Linked DNA regions of Homo sapiens: region 1 is linked to region 2. Evidence: fine-mapped expression QTL. A gene starts in region 2. The other region holds a variant in brackets. All regions are shown on one strand. Distances are from middle to middle. Region 1 overlaps RABL6 (RAB, member RAS oncogene family like 6). Region 2 holds the start of EGFL7 (EGF like domain multiple 7).

Region 1 (4,371 bases), 180 kb before region 2:
GCTGCGCGGGGGCCGCTGCTGCCGCCGTCGCCGCTCCTCCTTGCCCTCCTCCTTGTCCTTGCTCTTCTTGTGTTTGCTCTTCTTCTTGGCAGCTTTTTCTTCTTCCTGAGGAGCACAAGGATGGGGCGCCATGGAGTCACAGGAAGCCACAGCCCTGGTCCCAGGACCGCATGCCACCCAGTCCTGGCCTGCCAGGAAGGGGAGTAGCCAGTACCTCTTTGCCTTTTTTCTTCTTCTTCTTCTTCTCCTTAGAGGGGGTTTTGCCCTCCTTACCTGCACAGACAGGACAGACAGTGGCTCAAACTCAGGCCAACGGGGACCCCAAGCTGGGTGACAGGACTTCTCTAGAAACTCACAAAGCAGCGAGCCCCAGCCCTCCAGGAGGCCCTGCTGATGGACAGGACCACACTGCAAACATCAGCTCCTGCAGGGGGCTGCCAGGAGCATGGCACAGCATCCTGGACTCAGGAGAGGACCCCGGCCAGCGGCCAGCAGCTGGGAGGAGGCCCACGTTCTACCCAAACTCCAGCAGGCTGACCGCACTCTGGTGCCCCCACCCACCTTCCTCACTGCTCTCCTTGGGTCCGGCCTCCTCCAGCCCCAGCCCGAAGAGGTCCGAGTCATTCTTCAGTCTGAAGGCGGGGAGAGGGAGCTTGGGGGGTGGGGGCGGCTCGGCAGGGCCCTCATCCTCGTCAGTCACATCGGAGGGGTCATCTCGCACGGGAAAGTCATCCTGGAGCAGGGAGAGCAACTGGTCAGGCCATCATCCCTCCCACACCCCCAGGGGTTGTGGGATCTCAAACCAGGCCGGCAAGGCCCAAGTGTGGGGACATGAGATGCCTCTTCCAGAAGCCTCCTCCCACTGCACCCACCCAGATCAGGCCTGTGGGAGGGACCCTGGCCACCTGGCTGACCTCTGCCCCGGGAGGACTCGTCTTACCGCCCTGCGCTGTGTGTCTGATCCCTCGCTCTCAAAGTCGGGGTCATCCATGACGAAGGACAGCATTTGTGCAGCAATGGGTCCCTCGGGGTCACTCTCCGACGAGGAGGCCTGCTCACCCTTCCCCGGCTCCATCTCAGCAGGGGGCCTGGTGCTGCTGCGCTTCTCCGGACCTGTGCGAACAGAGACACCGCCTGGCCAGGGGGGTGCTGCGGTCCTCGTGGGAGCTGTCCCCCTCCGTGGCTTCGAAGCTGGTATGGAGGACCTTTGTGGACAAGCAGAGGGTCAGTCAGGGTCCTCTGGAGGCGTCCTGAACTGCCCCACCCGGGTCTCCAGGCCGCACCCGTGGGGACACCTGCCCTTACCACTTGGTCTCTGGCTCTGAGCACTGCTGGGGAGCTGGGGCAGGGCCTTTTGTGGGAGCTGCCACTTCTGCTTCCTCCTCACTCGAAAGAGTGATGTCTTGACTGGGGACGGGGCCTGCAGGCAGCGGGGGACTCCCACGTGGCTGGTCTTCGAGGTCCACATCGTCCTGGAACCCTGCCACCATCGGGTTGCCGCCCAGGGCCTCCCCATCACTGCAAAGCAGGGGGCAAAGCGGTCAAGGGCCACGGGGTAGGGATGGCTGGCCGGGCTCACGGGCCTTGGTTCTAGGCGCCCTGGTACCCAGCACACCCTGGCCGTGGGGCCACCCCACCCCAGGTGCTGTGTTGTGGAGAGGCCCCCTCATGGTCACAGGGCTTCTGAGCAGGAAGGGGTCGGGGGCACAAGGTTGGACACAGTGCTGCCCTGCGGCCGCTCAGTGGGTGAAGGATGTGGAGCCGCACAAGTGGGCGCTCGTGGAGGAGGCGGGCCCAGCTCAGGGCCACGGGGCTTTCTGTCCTTTGTGTATTTCTGGAGGAAGCCGCTGCCCCACAGCAATGGGTGAGGCTGAGGTGCTGAGGCCACTGTGGGTGGAGCTTGTCCAGGGCTGTCCTGGGACCAAATGCAGGGCTTTGCTGCAGGCAAAATTTGGGGCAGCTTGGCAGACAGAGTGGTGGGAGGGGCTGGCAGATGGCTGGGGAGGCGGCTCTAGCTCCCAGCTCTAGGACCTGCAGGAAGCCGCCCCTGTCTCTGCAGCACCTGGATCCTGGCCCTGTGGAGACCACATCTGGTGGCCTGAACCTCCCATATGACCTGCAGTGGCCTCTCCAATGGCTTCCATGTGGCATCTGCCCACAGAAGACCCCAAGGTGCCCCTGTCCTCTCCAGGGTGTGGGCAGAGCAGGTGGCCAGGCCTTTCTGAT[G/A]TCTGGAAGCCCCGTCCAAGCCCTTCCCTCGTCTGCTCCAGCCACAGAGCTGCTCTGTCCTCAGCCAACAGTGACCAGCCGGCGGGGGGCCCCTTCTGCGCCCCTAGAAAGCCAGCCCCACCTGCTGCTCGGGCACCCTGGAGGCTGGGGGGCAATGGGAGAGGAGGCCCAGGCCCACCCCTCACCTGTCGCTGTCCTGCTGGGCAGCCTTGGCCCCCACCTTCTTCTCGTCCCTGGCGGGGGTTGTGTCTTCCAGGAAGCTGCGGTCCAGGCGGTCGTCAGGAACAAAGTCCTCCACACTCTGGACCGTTGCTGGGCCCTCTGCGGCCGGGACTGGCTCTGTGAACAGTGATGCCGGGTCCTCTTCACTCGGCACCAGAACCCTCACTGCACCCAACCCCAAGCCAGGCCCACCCGGGATGTGCCCACGGGACTGGGACAAGCAGGAAGAAGCGTGGAGCGCTCCGAAATCCAGGACCCCACCTGTGAGGGCCTGGGGGTCTGGGACCAGTTTGGGAGGGGCAGCTCCAGGGCCTACCTGGAGGTGGAGGGGCTGCCTCGGTGGCAGGTGACGTCCCAAACAGCCTAGAGATGATGCTGCGCCGTGGGGCGGGGGCTGAGGGGCACGCAGGTGGGGGCAGGGCCTCTGAGGGTGGTACAGGGGGCACAGAGGATGGTGGGGCGGCATTGAGGGGCAGCTGTGGGGCGGGCTGGGGTGTGCCGGGGCTGGAGCTCCCCGTGGACACAGCGCCTGCAGGCACCACTGGTGACTGGGAGCCCGGGGATGGGCTCTGCCCGTTGGCCGCCAGTGGGGACGCATGGCCACGGCTGCGAGCCTCCATCATCTCCAGGAAGCTGAAAGGCAGAAGGCGGGTGAGAAGCCTGGCTCCCCTGCCTCTCCCTGAGGCCCTCAGGTGACAGGGGGCTCTCTGCTGCTGCTGCTGGGGCTGGGAAGAGCCACTGTGTTCTGGGCCACCCGCCCCACAGAGGCCATCATCCCCATCCACTTCCAAGGGCAGCAGTGCCAGCCAGGCACGGTGGCTCATGCCTGTAATCCCAGCACTGTAGGAGGCCAAGGCAGGCAGATCACGAGGTCAGGAGGTGGAGACCGTCCTGGCTAACGCAGTGAAACCCCGTCTCTACTAAAAATACAAAAAAAATTAGCCGGGTGTGGTGGCGGGTGCCTGTAGCCCCAGCTACTTGGGAGGCTGAGGCAGGAGAATGGCGTGAACCCGGGAGGCGGAGCTTGCGGTGAGCCGAGATCACACCACTGCGCTCCAGCCTGGGCGACAGAGCGAGACTCCATCTCAGAAAAAGAAAGAGCAGCAGTGCCAAAGGGTGGGGACAGCAGGCACCAGCGTACATGTGTCCAGCTCCCCTGAAAGTCACTTCGGATCTGTTCTGAGGCACAGCTGTTGGGGGCTCCATGCAGAGGTGGCCAGATGGCAGCAACTGGACCTTCCCGTGAGCGGGGGTTTCTGGGAAGAGGAGGGGGCTGGGGCTTGGTGGAGCACGTGCGGCCATCGCAGCATCCAGCTGACCCAACTCTCAGGCCCAGGAAATGCCAGGATTGGTTCAACAGAGAAGCGCCCATGCGGGGGGCTCCATTCTGGGGCTGGCCTGGCAGCTGGAAGCCACGGGTCCCTCTCCAGGCATCAAACTGCCTTCCCTCTCGGTCTCTTGCTGTGTCTGAGCCAACAGCCAGATCCAAGGTGACCCACAGGGCTCTCCTTCTGGAAACAGAGACCTCCTGGGGGGCCTCAGGAGGGCCACTGATTCCGTGGTCCCTGCCTGGGTCCCAGGGGAGGCACCAAGCCCCTAGCTGTACAGGAGCCTGAGGCAGAGAACGGGCCAGCTGTCCCACTGGCCGCAACCCCGGGGCTATGCACTGCCCAGGCCCACTCAGGAGGATGCTCTGAGCCGCCCTCTGCTATCGAGGACCAGAGACCTCCATGTCCTGGCCTGTATGCCTCTTCAACACAGGGAGCTTCCCAAAGTCAAGCAGCTCCCCAGAAAGCACACCCCATGCTGGCATCAATCTGGGAGGCCAAGCCCCTGATGGGCAGGCAGCCCCAGCAGCACTCCATGAGCACCAGCACCTGGCCACGGTCAGCGGTACTCAGAGTGGCAGGCACAGCATGACCT
Region 2 (4,371 bases):
GCAGTGGGCATCATGACCGTCCCCACCGCAGGCCCAGAGACCCAGATCTCCTCTGAGACCACATGGCAGAGCCCAGGCCTGCCTCCTAGCCTTAGCGTGTTAGGTTGGGGGCCCCTGCGCCGGCCCCCACCTGGCCCTCTCTCAGGCATCAGGCACCCTCACCGGGGTCACTGGGTCACTGCTGAGTTCAGCACAGTCAGGGCCATCGCAGAACACTCCTCCCAGCGAATCCACAGGCCCCCAGAGAGTCTCCTCACACCAGAGGTCCCTGGGCTGGTCACCTCTCTTCTCCAGGCCTCCATTTCCAAATTTATAAGATGGGGCTAAACAGCCCTGGGATCTAGTGACGGTGAGGTCGTGGCCACACAACAATTGTTACAGCTGTTACTGCGGGCGCGGCACGTGGGGCTCGGGCCAGCCCAATTCAGCAGCCCCTCAGACCCCAGCCGGAGCCAGCGCCCTGTGTCATAACCCGCGTGGGCGCCGGTGTGAGAAGTGTTCCCTCGGAGCAAGGGGTTTGCTGGGACTCACCTGGCGGAGGAGAATCAGTCATCCCCCGGACAGGGGCAGGAGCTGCTCCTCCGGGTGGTGGGGGCCACCTGTGCCTCCCCGGTCCTGGGGGCTGCTGGTTGGAGAGGAGTTGTGGGTTAGTGCCTATGCACAGTCCTGGTCACCCTGATGTCTGGGGGCTGGGAAGGGGCCCGGGACCAGCTTTCGGTGCTGCTGTGGGACCTCCGCCTGCACTAGGCCTACAGGCCCCTGTCCTGCACCTACCCCGACCCCATCCTGTCCTGAGCTGATTGTCCTCTCGGATCCGCAGCCCCTGGCCTCAGTAAAATGGGGTTATTGCCTCCAGCCCTGGACTCCCTGGCATGGGGATGGGAGGCTGCTGTGAGTGGAGCTGGAGGTCTCTCCATGTAACCCAGGGTGCTGGGCAAGGGGCCTGCAGATGGGTCCGAGAGGGCCACCAGCTTGGTCCTACCTTGGTGCATGGGAGCTGGAGGAAGGGAGGGGCCCAGGTCCCTGGAGAGGAGTCCCCAAAATGAGGCCGCCCCACCCTGCAATCCAGTGGCCACTGCTCTGGACCAGGGGCCCTGGAAGCCCCTGGCACGTGGTCCAAGGGACGACCAGAGCAGCTGCTGTCAGGGGGCGTTCCTCATCTGACTGGGGAGTCCTAGGCCTCCTGGCGCCCTGAGCCCACGCAGGGCAGCTCTTACCTAGCCCCCAGCAGTGAAGTGTTCAGAGTGGGGCCTAGGGGGCCTCTGGGTGGGAGAGCCACCGCCACCCTCCCTGTCCCCTGCCCCTGGCCTCATCTCTGGATCTGCGGTCACTTAACCCTTTGACCTGCCTCCCCACCTCTCCTGCCTGAGTCTGGAAGAGGCGATGGAGCAGAAAGGGCAGCTCCAGGGCTGCCCCGACTCAGCCCTCGCTGCCCCCATCCTGGCTAGGCACCATTTGGAAAGTGGGGGTTCTCAGACAGGCTTCTTGGTGTGGACGTATGAGACAAAAAGTGGGGCCTTCTAGGACCCACTGTGGTTTTGGGGGCTTTGGGATGGGGCTTCAGCCACTCTGCATGAGGCTGGGGAGAGGGAGAACAAGGGCGTCTCCAGGGTCCAAGGGGGGCCCACAGAGTCACCCATTTGCCCACCGCACCCAGCAAGTCATCCCTAAGCCCGAGCCCCACGTCCCGCACCCTGGATTCACACTGCTCATCCTGGCTACAGATGTGGCTTTGGGGTTCCTCTCCCTCGGGGCCAGTTCCCCTCCCCGGGCCCCCGTTGGGTTGCTCATCCACTGCTAGGGAGAAGATGAGGAGACCTCAGCCCTCGGGACACCGCAGGGCGTAGCGCGAAGCCCCTCACAGCGGGCCCAGCCAAGCTGAACTTTGCTGCCAACCACAGGGGCTGCTCTGCGGAGGGAGAGAAAGGCCAGAGGGTGGGGTTCAGGGGAAGGGCGACTGGGGGTGAAGTGTTGGAGTCAGCAGACTGGATTGGGATCTACGCTGGGCCACCCACTAGCAGGCGTTTGGCCAAGGGGCCTCAGTGGCCTCCTCTGTGCAGAAGGGGAGGAGACTGGGACCCCTCCCCTGTGACCTCGCTGGGGAGCAGATTGCGGAGCAGCCAGCAGGCGCCACGGTCAGCGGGAGTGAGGGGAATGGGGGGCCCGCCCTGTCCGCTCCCTGCCCCTCCGAGGCCACCCCTGCCATACCTGATGCTGCTGGAGCCCAGGCGTGGCCATGGTGGCCGCTGCTGTGTCCTGGGACTGGAGATGGACCCTAGCCCTTGCTGGGGCCTCAGGCCCACTGGCCGCCTGGAGGCACCTCCTGAGGCCCACCTGCCTGGCCTGTCCACAGGAGCCTCCCTTGCAGCCGTGCAGGGCCAGCTTGGTGCAGGGAGGCTCCCCCCGGGCGAGGAAGGGCGGCTTTTTATGCTCCGTCCTGGGTAATCGGGATTGGGATGGGCCCTTCCCAGCCGGACTTCCTGTGTGTGTTCTCCGCTGATAACGGGGACGTGTCGTCGGACAAACAGGAGGCTGAGGGGGGTGGGGGCCACCGTGTGAGGGGGCCTGGACAAACTGCCCAGGGGTGGGGAAGCCGTCCCCTGGGCCATCAGAGTCTAGCCCCAAAACAGCCAGAAACCAGGGCTGGACCCTGCTGGAGACCCTGGGGAGAGTGTGGGGTGGAGGACGCAAGCCCAGGGCCCTCCCAGGACCGTGGGTTCACAGGCCATGCTCACGTGTGGCTGGACAGAAGGGAGCTGCTGCATCTTTGGGCCAAGGATGCTGGGCCCTCCCCCAGGACACCCCCAGATGTGTGTGACACAGCACGGGAGCTTGGAGGGGCCCCAGGCCAAGGCAGGGACCAGCCACACAGGAGCCTTGACCAGTGAGGGATGGCGAGTGGCGAGGCCCGGCAGGAAGGGACTGGGGTGGCAAGACAGGCTGAGCGGTCCGAGAACAGCCTGTTCCGTGGGTCCCTGAGGCCCATGGTGAGGGGGTGACGGGAGGGGACAAGCATGGAGTCCAAGCTCTCTCCCCTAAAAGAGCTGCCAGTGAGGCTGTGAGCCCCTGCCCTGGAGATGGGCAAGCAGGCCCAATGCCCTCAGCCCCACTTCACAGGGGTGCTCTGGGCTGGCAGCAGGCTGCGGCCGGGGGTGTGGGGAGGGATGCGGGACACTGTGGGTGATCACAGGGGGTGCTCTGTCAGATTCCCGGCGTCCCAGCCTCCAGGTCTGACCCTCATCTTCCCTGTTCACACGGCAGTGGGAGCCTCAGGCCGAGCGAGCCACTGTGGCAAAGGTGGGCTGGGTGGGAGGGGACACGGTGCCGAAGGGAGCTGGGTGGCTTTGGAGGGCACGCCTGGAACCCCAGGAGAGCAGGGCCTCTCCCAACCCCGCTGTCCGTGGGGTGTGAGCCCTGCTTTGGGGTCAGCCCCTGTCGGCCTGATGCCTGGGACACCCCCATTTCCCTGGCCCTGGGCGGTCAGTGTGCCCCCACCTCTCCAGCCCCACTCAGCTGGGCAACTTGAGCCAAGGGAGGCTGGGGCAGCTGGGGAAATTCCCCACGGGACTTTGGAGGGCAGGTGGAAACCTCACCCACACGCGATGCGCCTCCCCCTCAAGCAGGAACCAGCTCCCCTCTACCCACGGCCAGGGGAAGGGTCTGCTCTGGGCGCCAGGCTGTGGTCAGGGCTCAGGGCCTCAGCCAGGCAGGACCTCACTCTTCTCCGGGCCTGTTTCTGCACCTGCTTCATGGTCACTGAGCTGGTTTAAGGGGGCGCTCCTGGCACCCAGGCACCGCTGGTCTGAGCGGGAGGGGCCTCTTTCCAGAGGTGGCCCCTGCCCTGAGGTTGGAGCAGATAGGCAGAACCCCATTTCCCCACCTCCTCCACACTAGGCCACCCTGGGATCTGGCCCTTACCCTACTGGCTGCACCCTCAGCCGCCCTGTGCCTCCCTCGGCCCCCTGGCTCTCCCACCCAGGGGCTCATCCTGCCCTGGCCAGCCTGTCCCTCCAGCTGTCAGGAGGGGGTTGCAGTGAAGAACAAGTTGGCAGCAGGCCGGGCCCAGTCCCCCAGGCTGTCACCCAGGAGTCCAGTGCCAGGAGGACAGCCTGGGGAGGACCCAGACTCTGCCCTCGCCCCTGGCTGTAAGCACAGCAGTCAGTTCACCGGGAAGGCCCCCAGCGGGCCAAGCCTTAGCAACTCGTGCACTCGGCTACTTAGCTACTCCACCGTATAGGGGCCCAGTAGGCTTGTGCCCCCATCCCAGGAGGTGCCCTCTTGCCCTCTGCCTGCATCCCTGCGGCCTGCCCCCTCCTCCCCCACCTGCATGCCCCTGGATCTGCCCTGGCCTCCTGGTGGAAGGACCCACAA

Evidence for each region. PIP is the estimated chance that this variant, and not a neighbour inherited with it, causes the effect. A credible set is the group of variants that fine-mapping cannot tell apart.
Region 1: its variant is the best candidate, but not a certain one, in a credible set for the expression of EGFL7 in whole blood (TOPMed, PIP 0.90).

Annotation. Positions count from the first base shown.
Region 1 is chr9:136,836,056-136,840,426 of GRCh38, reverse strand. RABL6 (RAB, member RAS oncogene family like 6) reads right to left here. Exons shown (of 15, transcript NM_024718.5): 9 at 2,765-3,081; 10 at 2,412-2,565; 11 at 1,306-1,518; 12 at 941-1,205; 13 at 562-733; 14 at 215-273; 15 at 1-105. Among named protein-coding and RNA genes, the nearest start is that of AJM1, 4.2 kb to the left of the region's middle. RefSeq lists an enhancer at 1,230-2,111. The variant G/A (reference allele first, on the strand shown) is at 2,227.
Region 2 is chr9:136,660,946-136,665,316 of GRCh38, reverse strand. It overlaps EGFL7 (EGF like domain multiple 7), which reads right to left and starts at 2,401. Exons shown (of 11, transcript NM_016215.5): 1 at 2,209-2,401; 2 at 1,694-1,909; 3 at 532-625.